Linked DNA regions of Homo sapiens: region 1 is linked to region 2. Evidence: fine-mapped expression QTL. A gene starts in region 2. The other region holds a variant in brackets. All regions are shown on one strand. Distances are from middle to middle. Region 1 overlaps AKAP7 (A-kinase anchoring protein 7). Region 2 holds the start of AKAP7 (A-kinase anchoring protein 7).

What was found. PIP is the estimated chance that this variant, and not a neighbour inherited with it, causes the effect. A credible set is the group of variants that fine-mapping cannot tell apart.
Region 1: its variant is the best candidate, but not a certain one, in a credible set for the expression of AKAP7 in whole blood (TOPMed, PIP 0.51).

What each region holds. Positions count from the first base shown.
Region 1 is chr6:131,191,281-131,196,480 of GRCh38, reverse strand. All of the region lies in intron 5 of AKAP7 (A-kinase anchoring protein 7), which reads right to left. Among named protein-coding and RNA genes, the nearest start is that of AKAP7, 58 kb to the right of the region's middle. The variant C/A (reference allele first, on the strand shown) is at 3,049.
Region 2 is chr6:131,132,885-131,138,084 of GRCh38, reverse strand. It overlaps AKAP7 (A-kinase anchoring protein 7), which reads right to left and starts at 2,618. Exons shown (of 8, transcript NM_016377.4): 1 at 2,303-2,618. The coding sequence starts at 2,321. RefSeq lists enhancers at 1,991-2,050, 2,487-2,987 and silencers at 2,311-2,420, 2,571-2,660.

The DNA.
Region 1 (5,200 bases), 58 kb before region 2:
ACCAGCCTGGCCAACATGGTGAAACCTCGTCTCTATTAAAAATACAAAAATTAGCCAGGTGTGATGGCGTGCCTGTAATCCCAGCTATTCAGGAGGCAGAGGAAGGAAAATCGCTTAAACCTGGGAGGCGGAGGTTGCAGTGAGCTGAGATTGCACCATTGCACTCCTGCCTGAGTGACAGAGTGAGACTCCGTCTCAAAAAAAAAAAAAAAAGCAACTGACATGCTGAAGAATGCATTAGAATCTCTTAATAACAGGGCCAAACAGGCAGAAGAAAGAATTAGTAAGCTTGAGGACAGGCTATTTGAAAATACGCAGTCAGAGGAGACAAAAGAAAAAAGAATATAAAACAATGAAGCCCACCTACAAGACCTAGAAGATAGTCTCAAAGGGACAAATCTCAGAGTTATTGGCCTTAAAAAAAGGGAGAGAAAGCGGTAGGGGTAGAAAGTTTATTCAAAGGGATAATATCAGAGAATTTCCCAAACCTGGAGAAAGACGTCAATATTCAAGTACAAGAAGGTTATAGAACACCATGCAGATTTAATTCAAAGAAGACTACCTAAAGGCATTTAATAATCAAACGCCCAAAGGTCAAGAATAAAGAAAGGATCCTAAAAGCAGCAAGTAAAAAGAAGCAAATAACATACACTGGAGCTCCAATATGTCTGGCAGCAGACTTTTCAGAGGAAACTTTATAGGCCAGGAGAGAATATCATGACATATTTAAGATGCTGAAGGAAAAAAATCTTTTACCCTAGCATAGTATATCTGATAAAAATAGCCTTCAAACATGAAAGAGAAATAAAGACTTGCCCAGAGAAACAAAAGCTGAGGGATTTTACCAACACCAGACCTGTTCTATAAGAAATGCTAAAGAGAGTTTTTCAATCTGAAAATCTGAAAGAAAAGGACATTAATGAGCAATAAGAAATCATCTGAAGGTACAAAACTCACTAGAAATAATAGGCACAAAGAAAAATATGTACTATTGTAACACTGTAACGGTGGTGTATAGATTAGTCCTATCTTAGGAAGAAATATTAAACAATGAACCAATCAAAATAATAACTACCACAACTCTTCAAGACATAGTTCTATAAGACATAAAGAGAACAACAAAAAGTTAACAAGTGAGAAGACAAAGTTAAGGTGTAAAGTTTTTATTAGTTTTCTTTTTGCTTGTTTGTTTATTCAATCAGGGTTAAGTTGTCATCACTTTAAAATAATGAGTTATAATATTTGCAATCCTCAGGGTAACCTCAAAGCAAAAAATATACAATTGATACACAAAAAATAAAAACTGAGAAATTAAGTTATACCACCAAAGAAAATCACCCTCACTAAAAAAAAGGCAAGAAGAAAGGAGGAGGAGAGGACCACAAAACAAACAGAAAACAAATAACAAATGGCAAGAAGAAGTCCTTATCAATAATAACATTGAATGTAAACAGACTAAACTCTCCAATAAAAAGACACAGAGTGGCTCAATGGATTTAAAAAGACAAGATTCAATAATCTGTTGCCTGCAAGAAACACACTTCACCTATAAAGATGCACACAGACTGGGAAAAAAAGGATAGAAAAAAGAAATCCCATGCCAATGGGAACCAAAACAGAGCAGGAGTGCATATGATTCTATCAGAGAAAATACATTTCAAGACAAAAACTGTAAGAAGAGGCAAAGAAGGTCATTGTATAATGATTTAGGGATCAATTCAGCAACAGAAATAACAATTGTAAACATATTTACACCCAACATTGGAGTACCCAGATATACAAAGGAAATATTTTTAGAGCTAAAGGGAGAGACTCCAATACAATAATAGCTGCATACTTCCTGGATACTTCAACACCCCACTTTCAGCACTGGACATACCTTCCAGACAGAAATTCAAAAACGAAACCTCAGACTTAATCTGCACTATAGACCAAATGGACCTAATAGATATTTACAGAATGTTTCATCCAATGGCTGCAGAATACACATTCTTTTCCTCACATGAATCCTTCTCAAGAATAGACCATATGTTAGATCACAAAAAAAGTCTTAAAACATTCAAAAAACTAAAATTAATATCAAGCATCTTCTCTGCCCACAGTGGAAGAAAACTACAAGTCAATAATAAGAGGAATTTGGGGAACTATACAAATACATGGAAATTAAATAATATGCTCCTGAATAATCAATGGGCCAATTAAAAAGAAAACTGAAAAAATTATTGAAACAAATGATGATAGAGCTACAACATACCAACAAAATCCATGGGATAGAGCAAAAGCCATGCTAAGAGGGAATTTTATTGTTTTAAGTGCCTACATCAAAAAAAAGCAAAACTTTTAAATAGATAACCTAATGATGCATTCTAAAGAACTAGAAAAGCAAGAGCAAACCCAACCCAAAATTAGTAGAAGAGATAATAAATATCAGAGCAGAAATAAATGAAACTGAAACAAAATACAAAAAAATCAACAAAATGAAAAGCTGTTTTTTTGAAAAGATAAGCAAAATTGACAAACCTTTAGCCAGACTAAGAACAAAGATAGAAGAACCAAATATATAAAATAAGAGCTGATAAATGAGACATTACAACTGATGCCACAGAAATTCAAAGGATCATTAGTGGCTGCTACGAGTAACTATATGACAATAAATTGGAAAATCTAGGGGACACAAATAAATTCCTAGACACATACAATCTATGAAGATTGAACCATGAAGAAATCCAAAACCTGAACAGACCAATAACAAATGAGATAAACGTCATAATAAAACATCTCCCAGCAATGAAAAGCTTGGGACCTGATGTCTTCACTGCTGAATTCTACCAAACATTTAAAGAACTAATACCAATCCTATTGAAACTACTCCAAAAAATAGAGGGGAGGGAATACTTCCAAACTCATTCTACAAGACCAGTATTACCCTGATATCAAAACCAGACAAAGACACATCAAAGAAAGAAAACTACAGGCCAATATCTATGATAAACATTGATGCAAAAATCACTGAATTCAACAATACACTAAAAAGATCATTTATCATGA[C/A]CAAATGAGATTTATTTCAGGGATGCAAGGATGGTTCAATATATACAAATAAATCAATGTGATACATCATATCAACAGAATGAAGAACAAAAACCATATGATCATTTCAATTGATTCTGAAAAAGCATCTGATAACATTCAACATCCCTTCATAAAAAACTCAAAGAACTGTGTATAGAAGGAACATACTTCAACATAATAAAAGCTATATACAATAGATCCACATCTCGTATCATACTGAATAAGGAAAAACTGAAAGCCTTTCCTCTTAACATCTGGAACATAACAAGGATACCCACTTTCACCACTGTTATTCAACACAATAGAAGTCCTAGCTAGAGCAATCAGACAACAGAAGAAATAAAGGGCATTCAAACTGAAAAAGAAGAAGTCAAATTATCCTTGTTTGCAGATGATATGATCTTACATTTTTTAAAAACCCAAAGACTCCACCAAAAACTATTAGAACTGGTGAAAAAAATTCAGTAAAGTTGCAGAATACGAAATCAACATACAAAAGTCAGTAGCATTTCTATATGACAATAGTGAACAACCTGAAAAAGAAATCCAAAAAGTAATCCTACTTACAACAGTCACAAACAAAATTAAACACCTAGGATTTAACCAAAGAAGCAAAAAATTTCTACAATGAACTCTATAAAACACTGATTAGATAAATTGAAGACAGCACCAAAAAAAATGTAAAGATATTCCATGTTCATGGATTGGAAGAATCAATGTTGTTAAAATGTCCAAACTACCCAAAGCAATCTACAGATTCCATGCAATCCCTATCAAAATTCCAACGACATTCTTCACAGAAATAGAAAAAACAATCCTAAAATTCACATGGAATCACAAAAGACCCGGAACAGCCAAAATTATCCTGAGAGAACAAAGCTGGAGGAATCATATTACTTAACTTCAAATTATACTACAGGGCTATAGTAACAAAAACAGCATGGCACTGGCATAAAAACAGACATATAGATCAATGGAGCAGAATAGAGAACCCAGAAACAAATCAATATATCTACAGTGAATTCATTTTCAACAAAGGTGCCAAGAGCATACAATGCAGAAAAGACAGCTTTTTCAATAAATGGGCTGGGAAAACTGGGTATCCACATGCAGAAGAATGAAACTAGACACCTATCTCTCACCACATACAAAAATCAAATCAAAATGGATTAAAGACTTAAATCTAGACCTCAAACTATGAAACTACTACAAGAAAACAGTGGAGAAACTCTCCAGGGCATTGGTCTGGGCAAAGATTTCTTGAGTTATATCTCACAAGCACAGGGAACCAAAGCAAAAATAAATAAATGAGATTACACCAAGCTTAAAAGCTTCTGGCTGGGCATGGTGGCTCACATCTGCAATCCCAGCACTTTGGGAGGCTGAGGTGGGCAAATTGCTTGAGCTCAGGAGTTTGAGACCAGCCTGGGCAACATGGATAGACCCCGTCTCTACAAAAAGATATGAAAATTAGCCAGGCATGGTGGTGCGCACCTGTAGCCCCAGCTACTTGGGAGGCTAAGCTGGGTGACAGAGTTGACCAAGTCTCAAAAAAAAAAAAAAAAACACCACGAGGACCAGAGGACCAGGCAGGCTGAAAGGCCATGAAGCCAAGGAGACAGGCACTGTCCAAAGTGCTGGTGGAGCCCAGGTCCAGTACCAGCACCCCAGTGAGCATTAGGTGCCAAACCACAGACAGCACACAAAGGGCCAAAACTGTTCCCACTGGCCTTGGACTGGTAGTAGCTGTCACTGATGACACACCTATCCCAAGGATGAATTCTGCATGGTCCTTTTCTTCTTCAAGTTGCTAGCTTCTGATTCAAAGTCTGCATCAGACCAAGATCATATTTTCCTTCCCTAGCAGCAAGGAAGTCTATGAAAGAATGTAACTAACACAAGAGATTGGTATAAAAAATTTAGATGCTGGGTAGCCAAAAAAAAAGAAAGACAAGTCCAGCATAAGCATGTTATGAAACAGTGAGAGTGTATTCCTAACAATTATCGTTGTAATTAACTTATCAACTTAGAGTTCATATAAATTACCAAAACTTCTCTTTTCTCAACTACCCTGTCATAACCCAACTTTGACCCTCTCTATTTTGGCATATTCACAACTGTTTTAAAAGAA
Region 2 (5,200 bases):
GTACAATGAAATAGAAACAATGAAAAAAATAGGGAAACAGTTAAACGAAGCATGCTCGCGACAATGACAACTACGAACAATGACTATGAAGAATGCAATGACAGAAAAAAGCTAACAACAAATGCCAAGTTTTTAGAAAGGAGATATAAAATTGCATATGCTCTATGATTTACAATTATGTGGCCAAAGGCTAAACAGTATAAACTGCTTGTAAATGCTGACAACTATATTGAATATATTCATGTTTCTCATTTCTGCTATTCAAACGTTTCAAAATTGAATATTACCTAAGAAAAACAATACATACATTTTAAGTATATTATAAAACCATACCTTTAAATATATGCAAATATTCAAATACAGGTGAAGCAAATGCCTTCATCAAAAACAGGCCAACAGGGTGGGCCGGGTGAGGTGGCTCACACCTGTAATCCCAGCACTTTGGGAGGCCGAGGCAGGTAGATCACGAAGTCAGGAGATAGAGACCATCCTCACTAACACGGTGAAACCCCATCTCTACTAAAAATACAAAAAATTAGCCGGGCGTGGTGGCACACACCTATAGTCCCAGCTACTCGGGAGGCTGAGGCAGGGGAATCGCTTGAAGCTGGGAGGCGGAGGTTGCAGTGAGCCGAGATTGTGCCACTGCACTCCAGCCTGGGCGACAGAGCGAGACTCTTGCCTCTAAAAAAAAAAAAAAGAGAGAGAAAAGGGTATGGAGAGTTCTCCCACTGTCACACAAAATGCAGGTTTCCTAACTGGATAATAAATGACTACTCAATTTTGTGAAGTAAGTCTCTCATCACTCTACTAGGTAAATAGTAAATTTATCCCAGCTGAGCAAGTTGGCTCACACGTGTAATCCCAGCACTCAGAGAAGGACTGCTTGAGCCCAGGAGTTCAAGCCTTGGTGACATGGCAAGACCCCGTCTCTACAAAAAAAAAAATACAAAAATTAGTCAGGCATGTTGGCACAGACCTGTAGTCCCCGCTACTTGGGGAGGCTGAAACAGGAGGTTGGCATGATCCCAGCCGATCTAGGCTGCAGTGAGCCATGATCGCGCCAGTGCACTTCCACCTGAGCCAACAGAGGAAGACCCTGTCTCTAAATACATATATACATATATACATACATACATAAGTACATACATAAATAAGTTTATTCCTAAGAACAACTGGAAAGGGCTAAGGGCATCCATTCTAGTCCTGGCTTAGCTACTAAAAATAGTATTAGCATCTTACACGTTAGTAAATGTTGACAGCTGCGTAGAAATCAACAAGTTACTTGACCTCCAGGCTTTCCTTTCCTCCTCATAAAAAGGGAACAAAAGTAAAATCCAAATTATTAGGGAGAAATGGACAAAACAAGTTAATAGTGTCCGAAAATGGATGAAAGGAGGAAGTAACCTCCACAAACATCTTAAACTTTATGAGTAAGGAAAATATACAGATATGCTAACAGGATCCTGAATTGCAAAGCCACGGCACTTAAACAAGGAACTGGAGTATGGCTCTTTTCTCCTTAACAATTTCCATTCCCATGCATTTCCTAAATGCAAAAACTCACTGTCATCATTCACTTAACAATTGTCAACATATTCACACGATTAACTGCTATTTATATAGTACACTTTAACGTTTTTATGCTTTTTATACTCTTCTATGAGTTTATCCTATGAAACTCTTGCAGAGGAGCACCTTTTCTCTAATTGGTTTGCGGACCCTTTTACCGAAAGTCCACCCCTAACTCGCTCTATCACAAAGTTCAGTTCACAACAAACGCTGACCTAAACTGGAAATTCATTCCGGGCGCTAGTGTAGACTTGGCGCCAGTTTTAAAAGCGGTCATGTCCAAACCTGGCAGAAAATCCTAAATGAGACAGTATGGTGGTTCGGGTGCTTAATATTTGTGATATAAGATAAAATCGAAATTTTACTAGGTTTTGTTTACATTTACCCACATCAACACCGTCGGAAGGAATGTGTACTGGCATGAACTTTGTGCAAAGGGTCACAGGATGAGAAAGGGAGAAAGAAAAGTGAAACTCGGGGATGGGCTCATACCCCCGCCTCCTGTCGGACCCACAATGCGTGCATTAAAACGCTTCGCTACAGGCAGCACTGATGTACACCCCGGTTGCACCGGGCTTCTCGGTGCTACCCTGAGTCCTTTTGGGAAGGAGGGAGACTCGGAGAAGGGCCGGCGCGGGTCAGGCCCTCCCAAAGTTCGAGCGCAGAGCAGGCCCAGGCCCCCGCGGCTCCTGTCGCCCCCGCCCCGGCCCGCTGGACAGCCCGGTCTCACCCGCTTCGGGGCGCTCCATGGTCGCGGCGCATGCGGGCGGCGCGTCTGGGCTGGCGGCAGCGGCGGTGGCGGGCCGCGTCCCGGGGCTGGAGGCGAGGCCGAGGCGGAGGCCAGGGCGGGGCTCGGGGCCTGAGGGCGGTGCGCTGGGCCGGCGCGGGGTCCAGCGACAGGCTGCGGGGGCCCGGGCGGCGGAGGCCAGGCCTGCGGAAGCGCGGAGCTTCCCAAGCCGCAGCCCCCGCGGCAGCGGCAGCAGCGGCGGCGGCAGCCGCAGCAGCCGCAGCACCCGCATGCCAGGCCGGACGCCGGAACAAGCCAGAAGGGGCCGACCCGAGTCGCCGGTGGTACCCGGATTCGGGCGAGAGGCGCGGACGCGCTCGGGCAGGGCGGGGGAAACTAGGGCCGGCGACTGCGGCGTCACGGCAGCCCAGGTCGTCTCGACTCTGCAATGCGACGCTGGGTCTTCGCCTGCCTGCCGAGCCCCGCGGCCTCCGACGGCCTTTGGCAGCCCTCATTTATTTCCCGTGGCGCAGCCTTGCCCCTCCCACGCTTTCAAGGGCGAGATTGGGACTAGGATGAAAGAATTCTCTGGCCTGGTGTCTTTTGAGAATCCATGTGCTTAGTTTTGCAATCAGGGTTCTGATTGCAGAATATTTGGGAAGAGCGAAATGTACAAGAACGAGACCTTGTACTTCTGTATAATGAGATACTTTATTTACCTTACTTTTAAAAACTGCAAATTGTGACAAAGTCTCTAATTTTTAACAATGATGTTATGTTTAGACATTAAGAGGAAACCAGTTGCTGGTTCTTGTAGTATAAGGTACTGCAGTGAGTAAATTGGGAGAAAAAGAAATTTACTTAGTTTAAAAAAATAAAAACCTTTCACTTGAAACGGAATGCTATTGGGATTGGTTTTAGTGCGAAGAAACCAGGGGTTAAGAACATTAGGTGCATCCGTCCACAAATTAGCGCCTTTCGTGAATAATAACACTTCGCTTATGTTGAATGCATCGTAGAATAGGGATGGAAGAAAAGAAGACCCCTACACAGCCACAACAGCTGGCGTAAAGGCTGCACACTAGAAGTCGGCAAACTAGTTACTCTGATTTTCAAATAATTCTAACACGTTGAGTTTCTGATGCCCATTTATGGGCTGGTAGGAAAGTACAACCAGTTCCCCTAATATTTATTTAATGCTTGAGCTCTGTGCTGAGGATGTGCAGGTAAGACAGGTCTTTTACTTATGGAGCTGATCATATAATAGCAGAGAAAGAAACATAAGTAACTGCGGAAATAAAAGCTGCAAAAATGTGGTCCACATTCATAGTGAAGAGGATGAGAATATGCCACCCCAAATATGCCACTTCAGCATAAGGATTATTCTTGAGCTTAAAACAGTTCAGAAACTAAAGACTCAGGAACAACTTTGACCTCCCCCTTTCTGCCTAAAAGCAGGACATAAATTTCCCTTCGTAAAGGTGACATAAATTTTTATTTTTAAAGCTTTACCAGGCCGGGCCCAGTGGCTCACGCTTGTAACCCCAACACTTTGGGAGGTCAAGGCGAGTGGATCACTTGAGTCCAGGAGTTTGAAACCAGCCTGGGCAACATAGCAAAACCCTGTCTCTACCAAAAATACAAAAATTAACCAGACGTGGTGACCCATGCCTGTAATCCCAGCTACTCCAGAGGCTGAGGTGGGAGGATCGCTGGAGCCCAGGAGGTGGAGGTTGCAGTGAGCTGAGATGATGCCATTGCACTCCAGTGTGGACAACAGAGCCAGATCCTGTCTCAAACAAACAAACAAACAACAAAGCTTTACCACTCACCCATACCAGAAAGAGGAGAATGAGTCTTACCTGCATAACAAACCCATACATTTTCTAGTAACCTTCCCATACTGCAAAAAGGCTAAGCCCCCTTTTCCTTTGTCTAGCCTCTCCACACTTTATCATCGTTAAAATGGTATAGAAGCCCCCAGTTCTAACTGCCTCTTCGGGCTTTTAGTTCTTTCCTGTGAAGCATCTATGTGCATGTGTAATAATCCTTTTCTCGTCTTAATCTGTCTTTTGTCAATTTAATTTACACAGTCCAACCTAGTGAACTAAATGGGCAGGAGAAAGATTTTTCTTCCCCTGTGGTGTGTACCAAGAGATATATGGAAGTTTCATTCTCTTACCTAAGCAGAGGTAACAGCCCAAATGCCACATATTTTTCACCACCAGTATTATGAATACAGAGTCTTATCAACACCTACCATGTGGAGGAACATTTTAATTACCCAAGTCTGAAAAAGGAATTTTTCACAGAGCTTCTTTTAGAAATGACAGGGAGAAAGGGAAGTACAAGGTGAACCTTGGACATCTTCTTGTGCCAAAAAGCAAAGACAAATGGGGACTATCAAAAACACAAGGACTAGCGAGAAACAGCTTTCTTTGAGCAAATGGGAGATAATCTGACATCATAAAAGGATAACACCTGTAATTATTGTAACATACTGAATACAAAATCTATATACCCATAATAATACTCAAAAAATGAGGAAGAAAAACTAGTAGGCCACCATTAAAGGTGACAAGTACGCAATTCCTTAGTCTCCTTACTCTAAAAATTAAAGGGAAAGAAAGATTTACCATGACTTTTTAGAAGTAGTAGTATGGGAAAGCTGCTTTGCACAGAAGAATTTTCAATAATAAATATAGGAGACATAAAATAATTGGAAAATTACCATTTTGCCACCACAACTGATAACTGATTGATGCAAAGATCATCAATATATTCTAAAACCATTACATGAAAGGTTAATGTGGACCGAAATATTTATAAGTTGCCAAAATACTACCCCCCACAAAATACTTGGTAATTGCTCAGGAGAGAACATATTTTTACTCCATGTAA